2 linked regions of the Homo sapiens genome follow. The protein of the gene in region 1 interacts with the protein of each later gene in a pairwise test. Each region holds a gene or a part of one and is shown on either strand. Other genes may lie near its edges.

Region 1 (4,381 bases):
ACTTTTTAAATGCCAGAATTCTTTCTGTACTGTCTTCTATGTTCTTTTTGATGATCTGTAAGCTCCTTAAACATTAAAACATTTATTTCTTTTAGAACAAAACTCAAATACATGATGAAAGCAAGCTAAAAGCAGTGCATTTAACAAACCACAATATAATGTGATATATTTATAGAATTATTACTAAAATCAGAAAATCAATGTCTTAGTGATTAAGTCTAGGATAATCAAACTTATTGAATAGTTGCAGTAGTTACTTAATGAGATAGTTTTGATTAATCTTTTGTCCAAATAACAATATTGTGATTACAGGCTTAGCACTACAGGTAGTGTAACCATCAGTGAGTGAGATTAGTACATTTTACATAGTTTTGCTATTTTCTCAGTTTATTTTGGAGTCCAGTAATAACCAGTCAGTCTGTACCTGCCATAGGGCAATCTTTGGTTGATATGAGTTCCTTTCCTGATTTTAAAATAAGTGCAATCTTTAACCTAATAAAATTATCTTAAAGTTTACAATTGATGGTTTAAACACATTATAATTGCTCCGTATTTTGCAGATAGAAGAGGCTTAATCCATGTTTGTAGATCTATTTCCTAAAATAAAAATTAGTAAAAAAAAGTTTTTTTTCTTCAGGTTTAACATTCATTTTGTACCGGGAAGAGAAATGGAATAAGAGGCTCGGATTTTTAAGACTATGCAATCAGATACAAGTGCCATTTTGGCCAAAGAATGAGTAAAACATTCTAGTCCCGACACGTTTAATAATGGGCATACATCCTATTTCTTTGTTTCATAATCATTGAGCTCTCTGCCTTCTCTCTCTTTTTTGGTATGGTAACAAATTCGACAAAATCAATGCCATCTAGTTAAACTTTTTGATTAAGTAGTGGATCCGGTGTCCTATCCACGAAGAGGTGGGAAAAGCGATGTGGAGAAGCAGGCACGAACCCATCTGGAATGGAACATGTCCCTTCCGAATAATTTCATGTGGGAAAATAATTTCAAGTTGAAGGATAATTACTGCAGAGACTGCCAGTCACCCCCGGCCGCCGCCGGCCGCGCAGCGTCGGAAACCCTTCGCGGCAGCCAGGAGGGTCGCAGCCCTCCCGGAGCCCCGCTTCCTGCCCCGGGGCGGCGCACCCGGCTCCGGGAAGGTGCCGCGCGGGAGACGTGGCAGCAGCCCCTCCAGTCCGCGCCCGGGCGCAGCGGCCGAGCGCTCCGTGCAGCCGGGCAAGGAAGACTCCGCGGCAGCAGCGCACCGGCCGGCGGGGAGACCCGCCTGAAGCGCCGGCGCCCGCCAGGGGACGGGAAGTGGCGCCCGGCCCGCCCTTGCGGCCCGCGGCCCGCGGCCCAGCAGCTCCGCGCCGCCCCTTTTCTCTCGGCCTCTCCCTCGGCCTCCGCCACCCCGGCCGAATTCTTGCATAAATTATGCCAGGCGCGCCTGACGTCAGGTGGCGGCGCGCGGGCGCGGGCGCGGGCGCGGCGCGGCCCGGAGGGAGCTGGCGGCGGGCGCGCGCGGCCCCGCGGCTTCGGGTGCGCGCGGCGTGCCGGACGCGCGCAGGCGCTGGCGTGCTGGGGCCGCGGCGGCGGCGGCGGCGGCGGCGGCAGCGGCGGCGGCGGCGGCGGCGCGGGGGTTGAGTCGTGGTGGTGCGGACGCGCTCGTGCTCGGGAACTATCGGATTAAACTTGAATCGAGTGAAATTACACAAAGGAGCGCCGCGGAGGAGGCGGCCCGGGGACCCGGACACCCTGAAACTCACCAGAGACCCGTTCGCCCCCGGCCAACTCCGTGCCCGTGGATTCAGCCCCCTGGCCGCAGCTGCCGAGCCAACTCCGGAGCCCGCTCTGCGTTTTGTTTTCCCCTCGGCACTAGGCAGCGGAGGAGCCCGACCGACCCGGTGAGCGCGAGAGTTCGCCCGGCGCCCCCGGGAGGGGCGGCGGCGGCGGCGGCGGCAGGAAATCGCTCCGGGCCGGGGCCGGGGCCGCGCTAGGAGTTGGGAGCGAGGAGTTGGGCGTGTGCGGGGCGAGGGGCGAGGGGCGAGGGCGGGAGGGGGCCGGGGCCAGCGCAGGAGCGCAGCGCCGCCCGCGTAGTGTCGCCGGCGTCGCCGCCCGCGGGGCCCGAACCCGCGCCCCGAGCGCCGCCCGGCGCCCCAACTTTTGCCTGCGTCCGCCGGGCCGGCGGCGGCGGGGGCGCGCGGTGCGGCCGAGGGTCACTTCCTCGCATGTAAATGGCTTTTTGTTGTGCTGCCGGCGTGGGGGGGGGGTACGGGGGACAGGAGGGAGCGTGTCTGCGCGCGGGGGAGCGCGAGCGCGTTTCCTCCCGCCGGCGCCGAGCACGAGTTGCCGGCTCCATTCGAGAGAAAAAGGAAGGAGGAAAAGTTGGGCTCCAACTCAAGTGCGAGCGGGCGATGGGCGCGCGGGCGCGGGGCGGCTGAGCAGCGGCGGCGGCGGCTCGGGGACGGCGGCGACCCCCGCCTCCCGCCCCCGCCCCCCGCTCCGGACCGACCACGCCGCGCTCGCCGGGAGCTGCGGCCGCACCGGCGCGAACAAAGTGCGTTCCTCCCGGCGCGGCGGCGCCAGCCCGCGCGGGGACCGCCACCGAGCGAGGTGGGTCGGCGGCGGGGAAAGTGCGCGGGGCGCCGCGTGGGGCGGGGGCAGCGCGAACACGCGGCGCGGGAGGCGTCCCGAGCTCAGCCAGTGCCGGTCGCGGGCGCGGAGTTGCGAGCCCGGAGTTGGGGGCTCCTGGGGCTCCCCGGCGGCTCCCAAGTGCGCTAGGAGGAGAAGAAAGGGAGCGGGGCCGGGGCGAGCGCCGGGAGGCGCGGCGAGGAGGGGACCCCACCTTGTCGAGCTGGCCGGGCCGCCGGCGGCGGCAGCTGCATAATAGCGACTTTAACCTTCCAACGCAACTCGGCTCCCCCGCCCCCCAACCCGCCGGGGGTCAGCGCCGGTGGGGGGTGGTCACCAGGTGGCCCCCGAGGTGACCCGGGTGCGCTCTGCCCTCGCAGAGAGCCGCGGCTTGGAGCGTGAACGGCCGAGGTGGCTGGAGGCCAAGCGGTCAGCGGGGAGAGGAAAGGAGGGCGGTGGGGGACGCGTTGTTTGTTTGGTTCGCACCGGGGATTGGGCTCGCTGGGGGCGCGGGGCTCGGGCGGGGGCGCGGGCACCGGCTGGGCTGCGGTGCGGGGCGGGCGCGGCGGCGCGGGGCTGTCGAGGTCGCGGGGGGGGGGGGCGGGGGCGGCGGCGGCGGCGGCTCCCGGGCGGGGGTGGGGGCGCTGGTCGGGAGGCTCTGGGGAAGGAGCCGCCGGCCCCGAGCAGCCATCATTACCGAGCCGCCTTTCTCCGGATGGCTCTGCCTCGAGGAGCCCGGAGCCGTGGGAGCGCACCCCAAACTCCCGGCCGGCCGCCCGCTTTGTGAGCGCCCCCGTGAAGCGAGCGGCGCGGAGAGTGCTCCTGCTATGGGTCGGACTCTTTTCCTGGAGGTCACTTTTAGAGACTGCTCACGCCTTGGTTTAAACTAGTTTTTTTCCCCCTCTTCTGAACAGACAATGGACAAAAGAAAAGTAGCAACCCACATGGAGAGAGTTTCCTTTTGAATTGCTAGAATTAGATACACTATCCAGCGCTCCACTTGCTAAGTATACTTTTTAGTTTCCCATTGTATATTATCTAGCAATCGATTTAAATAACTTATCTTAAAAAGTGTCCCTTTTGGGGGCTTAATTTCTGGAATACATTACATGTCTTAATTTATTTTTAAAGGATTTTGTGAGGCCCTGATTTTTTATTTTCTAAAAATTTTAATTTAAGCCGTCTTTGCAGTGGGCGATACCTTTCTAAGGGGTTAAGTGTTATTTCACCCCAGTTCTCTCTCGGTAAGGGAGGGAGTACTCAGTATACGTAGTAATCGAAGAGGAAACAAAATACGTGTCTTTATTTCTTCACTGATCTTGTCTGACGATGACAAAAAATATCTTAGTGACTGTGACCTTAGCAGCATGGCTACCTGATTTATCCCAGTTATAATTATATTTAGATTGCAGTAATGTCTAAGTACAAGGTAATTCCTATTTCAGAAATAACTTGAGCAGTGATTTTACGAAGTTGAATCCTTCTCCCAGCCCCCAGAGTACATCTGTCGCGCAGTGTTTTTGTCTTGCTGTTGCACAACAGAAGCCCTCCAGTCTTTACCCTAAAATGGCAGCTTTCATTTGACTGAGGCCCATTCATTGACAATGATAATAAAGAGGCTGAAAGCTAGATGCTTGGGGCATGGAGTAGGACTTGGTTTGCCTTTCTAGGTGATAAGTAGGAGACATTTTATGTCTTCCAGTTTGCTCAGGAAAAGTTTATTTTCCCTGAAAAATCTGTCTTGTAGAAAAA
Region 2 (3,708 bases), on another chromosome or scaffold:
GAACTCTTGGTATAAAATAGTAAATGATGGCTGGGCATGGTGGCTCACGCCTGTAATTCCAGCACTTTGGGAGGCCCAGGCGGGCAGATCACGAGGTCAGGAGTTCGAGACCAGCCAGGCCAACATGGTGAAACCCCGTCTCTACTAAAAATACAAAAATTAGCTGGGTGTGGAGGCACGCACCTGTAATCCCAGCTACTTGGGAGGCTGAGGCAGGAGAATCACTTGAGCCCGGGAGGTGGAGGTTGCAGTGAGCCAAGATCTCATCATTGTACTCCAGCCTGGGCAACAAGAGTGAAACTCCATCTCAGAAAAAAAAAAATAGTAAATGATGATAATTGCCTGCATCTATTGAGAGCTTAGTATCTCCCAGGCACTATACTAAATGTCCAACCTACATTGAGTAATTTAATCTTTACGTCAACCTTAGAGGTAGATATCATCTTCAGTTGACAGATAGGGTATAGAGGAGTCAAGTCACCTGCATAAAGTCACAGAGCTAGTAAATAAAACCAGGATCTGAATCCTTTAATCTGGCCCATGATCTGAAACTTTACACTGTACCACATGATAGCTGCCATTTTTTTGAGCCCCTACAATGCGCCAGGCACTATACTAGTACTTTATAGACCTCTCAACAGACATTCCATTTTACAAATGAGGAAACTGAGGTTTAAAAATTCGAAGTAAATTGCCAAGGTCCTCATGGTAGAACTGGGATTTGAACTTAGATCTTTTCAACTTCAAAACATATGTTTTTTACCGTGGTATGCTGACTAGCTATATGCATGAATAAGGACTTCCTTTTAACATCTGAGTTTGGAAATGAGTATTTTCTTAACTTCTAATTCCTTGTTTAAAAATTGTATAAAATGGCTAGGTGCAGTGGCTCATGCCTGTAATCCCAGCACTTTGGGAGGCTGAGGCAGGAGGCTCACCTGAGGTCAGGAGTTTGAGACCAGCCTGACCAACATGGAGAAACCCTGTCTCTACTAAAAATACAAAATTAGCCGGCCGTGGTGGCACATGCCTGTAATCAGAGCTACTGAGGAGGCTGAGGCAGGAGAATCTCTTGAACCCAGGAGGCGGAAGTTGCCATGAGCCAAGATCATGCCATTGCATTCCAGCCTGGGCAACAAGAGGGAAACTCCATCTCAAAAAAAAAAATTGTATGAAATATCCCTAAGTATAGCCAAGGAGATAATTCATTTAAAGAAAACCCCATCAAGGAAAAGTAAGACATATTTGAAACCCTTTCATCTAGCACATAGCAGGCACTCAGCATGTAGAGTCAAATAATCTACTTTTTTCCATCTTTATCATGCAGGAGAAGTCATTAGCTCTCTTACCATTTTTTCCTTTAGCCCTTTAACAAACATTTATTTTTCTTCTTCTTGTTTCTCTCTCTCTTTCTTCTAAGCTACCTGGCCTATCGAAACTTTATGATTGACACTTACCGACTGAACCCCCAAGAGTATCTTACCTCTACCGCCTGCCGCCGAAACCTAGCGGGTGATGTCTGTGCCATCATGAGGTGGGTCTTGTGGCTGAGGGGAAGGGGGTACATGAGGATGCCTGCCTATGGATGTGTTTTGGCAACAGTAGAGATGCCAGCAAGGAACACAGAGGAGCAGACAGAAAAAAGCACCTCTAGAGAAAGGTGAAGTACAGGTTTGGGGAATGAATGACTTGAGGGATTAGCAATGGCATTCTCTGAAGTGTAGAATATAGGACAAAGAAGGAGCATGTCTGTAATTGAAAGATACTGGTTCAGGCCAGGTGTGGTGGCTCATGCCTATAATCCAAACATTTTGGGAGACCAAGGTGGGAGGATTGCTGGAGCCCAGAAGTTCGAGACCAGCCTGGACAAAATGGCAAAACCCCATCTCTAGAGAAAATGCAAAAAAATTAGCTAGGCATGGTGGCACGTGCCTGTGGTCTTAGTGACTCAGGAGGCTGAGGTGGGAGGATCCCCTGAGCCCTGGAGGTGGAGGCTGCAGTGAGCGGTGATCACACCACTGCACTTCAGTCTCTCTTAGGGAAAAAAAGAAAGAAACTGGTTCAGTTTTACTAGCTATTCAGGAAGAAATGTTCGGTAGGTAGGTAGATATAGAGATTGGCCCAGGCTGAAGATGTAGACTTGGGTGTCACTGGCATTTAGGTGATAAATGAACAACTGGAGTAGGTGAGATTTCTTAAGGAGTACAATGAACAGAGGAAAAGGCCGGGGTTGGGTGGGGAGGGGGTTTATGCCCCTTCTACCCCCCACTTTTCCTCTTCCTCGTGCACCTTTCTGGCTATCCGTGTGACCCTGTCTCTGCCTCTCTCTGCACAGGGTCCATGCCTTCCTAGAACAGTGGGGTCTTATTAACTACCAGGTGGATGCTGAGAGTCGACCAACCCCAATGGGGCCTCCGCCTACCTCTCACTTCCATGTCTTGGCTGACACACCATCAGGGCTGGTGCCTCTGCAGCCCAAGACACCTCAGGTAGGGTGAGGTGCTATGGGGATGGGGCGGGTTGGGAAGATTGGGCTTCTTTGAACTTTTCTTTTTCTGGTTTTTAGGGTAATGGTTCAGGAGTGTTTTGAGGCTTCTTCCTTTTCCATGGGATGCAAAGGGTCACGGGAATCAGCCCCATGTGTTTAGCATCCTCTCTCAGCCTTTGTACCTAAGGCTGTAATTGCTGAGGGAGAAGAGATTATCCTTTTACTCAAGGAGTAGACAGGCTAATGTAGGGGAGTCAATAGAGAAAAATGGCTTAAAATTAACTTGCATGAAATTTTTAAACTTTGTCATCTTTGCCACATTTTTTCATTTTTGCCTCATAATTATCATCTTCATTTTTTTTTCCATTTCCACTTCATCCATTACAAAAATTAGGAAGAAGGTTATGTGGCTTGCCCAAGGTCACAGAGTACCAAATCTAGGATTAGAACCTAATTGTCCAGCTCCTAAGAGAACCTATAAAGATAATGTGAATATGTATGGATATCATGCCAACGACATGTCTTATTAATCATGAAGGGAACATGGAACAGTGGCATGAGTGCCCCCAGAGCTTGTGGGCCGCCCAGCATATGGTCTTGAGGCCTCCAGGGCCTTGGCCTGGTCATTTCCTGCCCAGCCTCCATGACGCCAAGCTCTGTCCCCCAGGGCCGCCAGGTTGATGCTGATACCAAGGCTGGGCGAAAGGGCAAAGAGCTGGATGACCTGGTGCCAGAGACGGCTAAGGGCAAGCCAGAGCTGGTAGGTGGGGTGCAGACCCTGCTGGGCTGCTCATTTTCCCCTTTATTGGGGGGCCCCTGCCCGGGAAGAAGAGACATGAGAGCAGAGGAACTACAGCAGTAAGGGAGGAAGTCCCACCCAGGGGTGTCCCTGGCTTTGGGAAAGAAGCTCCTTCTGTCTGTTTTTTCTCTCTGTCAGCCCCTGGCTCCCGGTGGTCACTTGTACTCACCTGTTTCTTTCCCTCCACAAATAGCAGACCTCTGCTTCCCAACAAATGCTCAACTTTCCTGACAAAGGCAAAGAGAAACCAACAGACATGCAAAACTTTGGGCTGCGCACAGACATGTACACAAAAAAGAATGTTCCCTCCAAGGTAGGAGGTGCGGGCCGACTCTAGGGGTAGAGAATGTTCGCTCCTCAGAGGTCACAGGCTCCTTTCTTCTCACCTGCCTGTGTTTCCCCTGCAGAGCAAGGCTGCAGC

The links. The genes of interacting proteins can lie anywhere in the genome.
Region 2: the proteins of CHD7 (region 1) and SMARCC2 interact in binary tests that used the Homo sapiens proteins (3 or more experiments, as listed by UniProt).

The regions. Positions count from the first base shown.
Region 1 is NC_000008.11:60,677,181-60,681,561, forward strand, and holds the start of CHD7 (chromodomain-helicase-DNA-binding protein 7), read left to right. Parts: upstream 1-1,559; 5' UTR 1,560-1,902; intron 1,903-2,314; exon of another isoform or gene 2,315-2,611; intron 2,612-2,700; exon of another isoform or gene 2,701-3,058; intron 3,059-4,381. UniProt on the Homo sapiens protein: ATP-dependent chromatin-remodeling factor, slides nucleosomes along DNA; nucleosome sliding requires ATP. Probable transcription regulator. May be involved in the in 45S precursor rRNA production.
Region 2 is NC_000012.12:56,172,477-56,176,184, reverse strand, and holds part of SMARCC2 (SWI/SNF complex subunit SMARCC2), read left to right. Parts: intron 1-1,420; coding exon 1,421-1,534; intron 1,535-2,335; coding exon 2,336-2,489; intron 2,490-3,155; coding exon 3,156-3,248; intron 3,249-3,480; coding exon 3,481-3,600; intron 3,601-3,694; coding exon 3,695-3,708. UniProt on the Homo sapiens protein: Involved in transcriptional activation and repression of select genes by chromatin remodeling (alteration of DNA-nucleosome topology).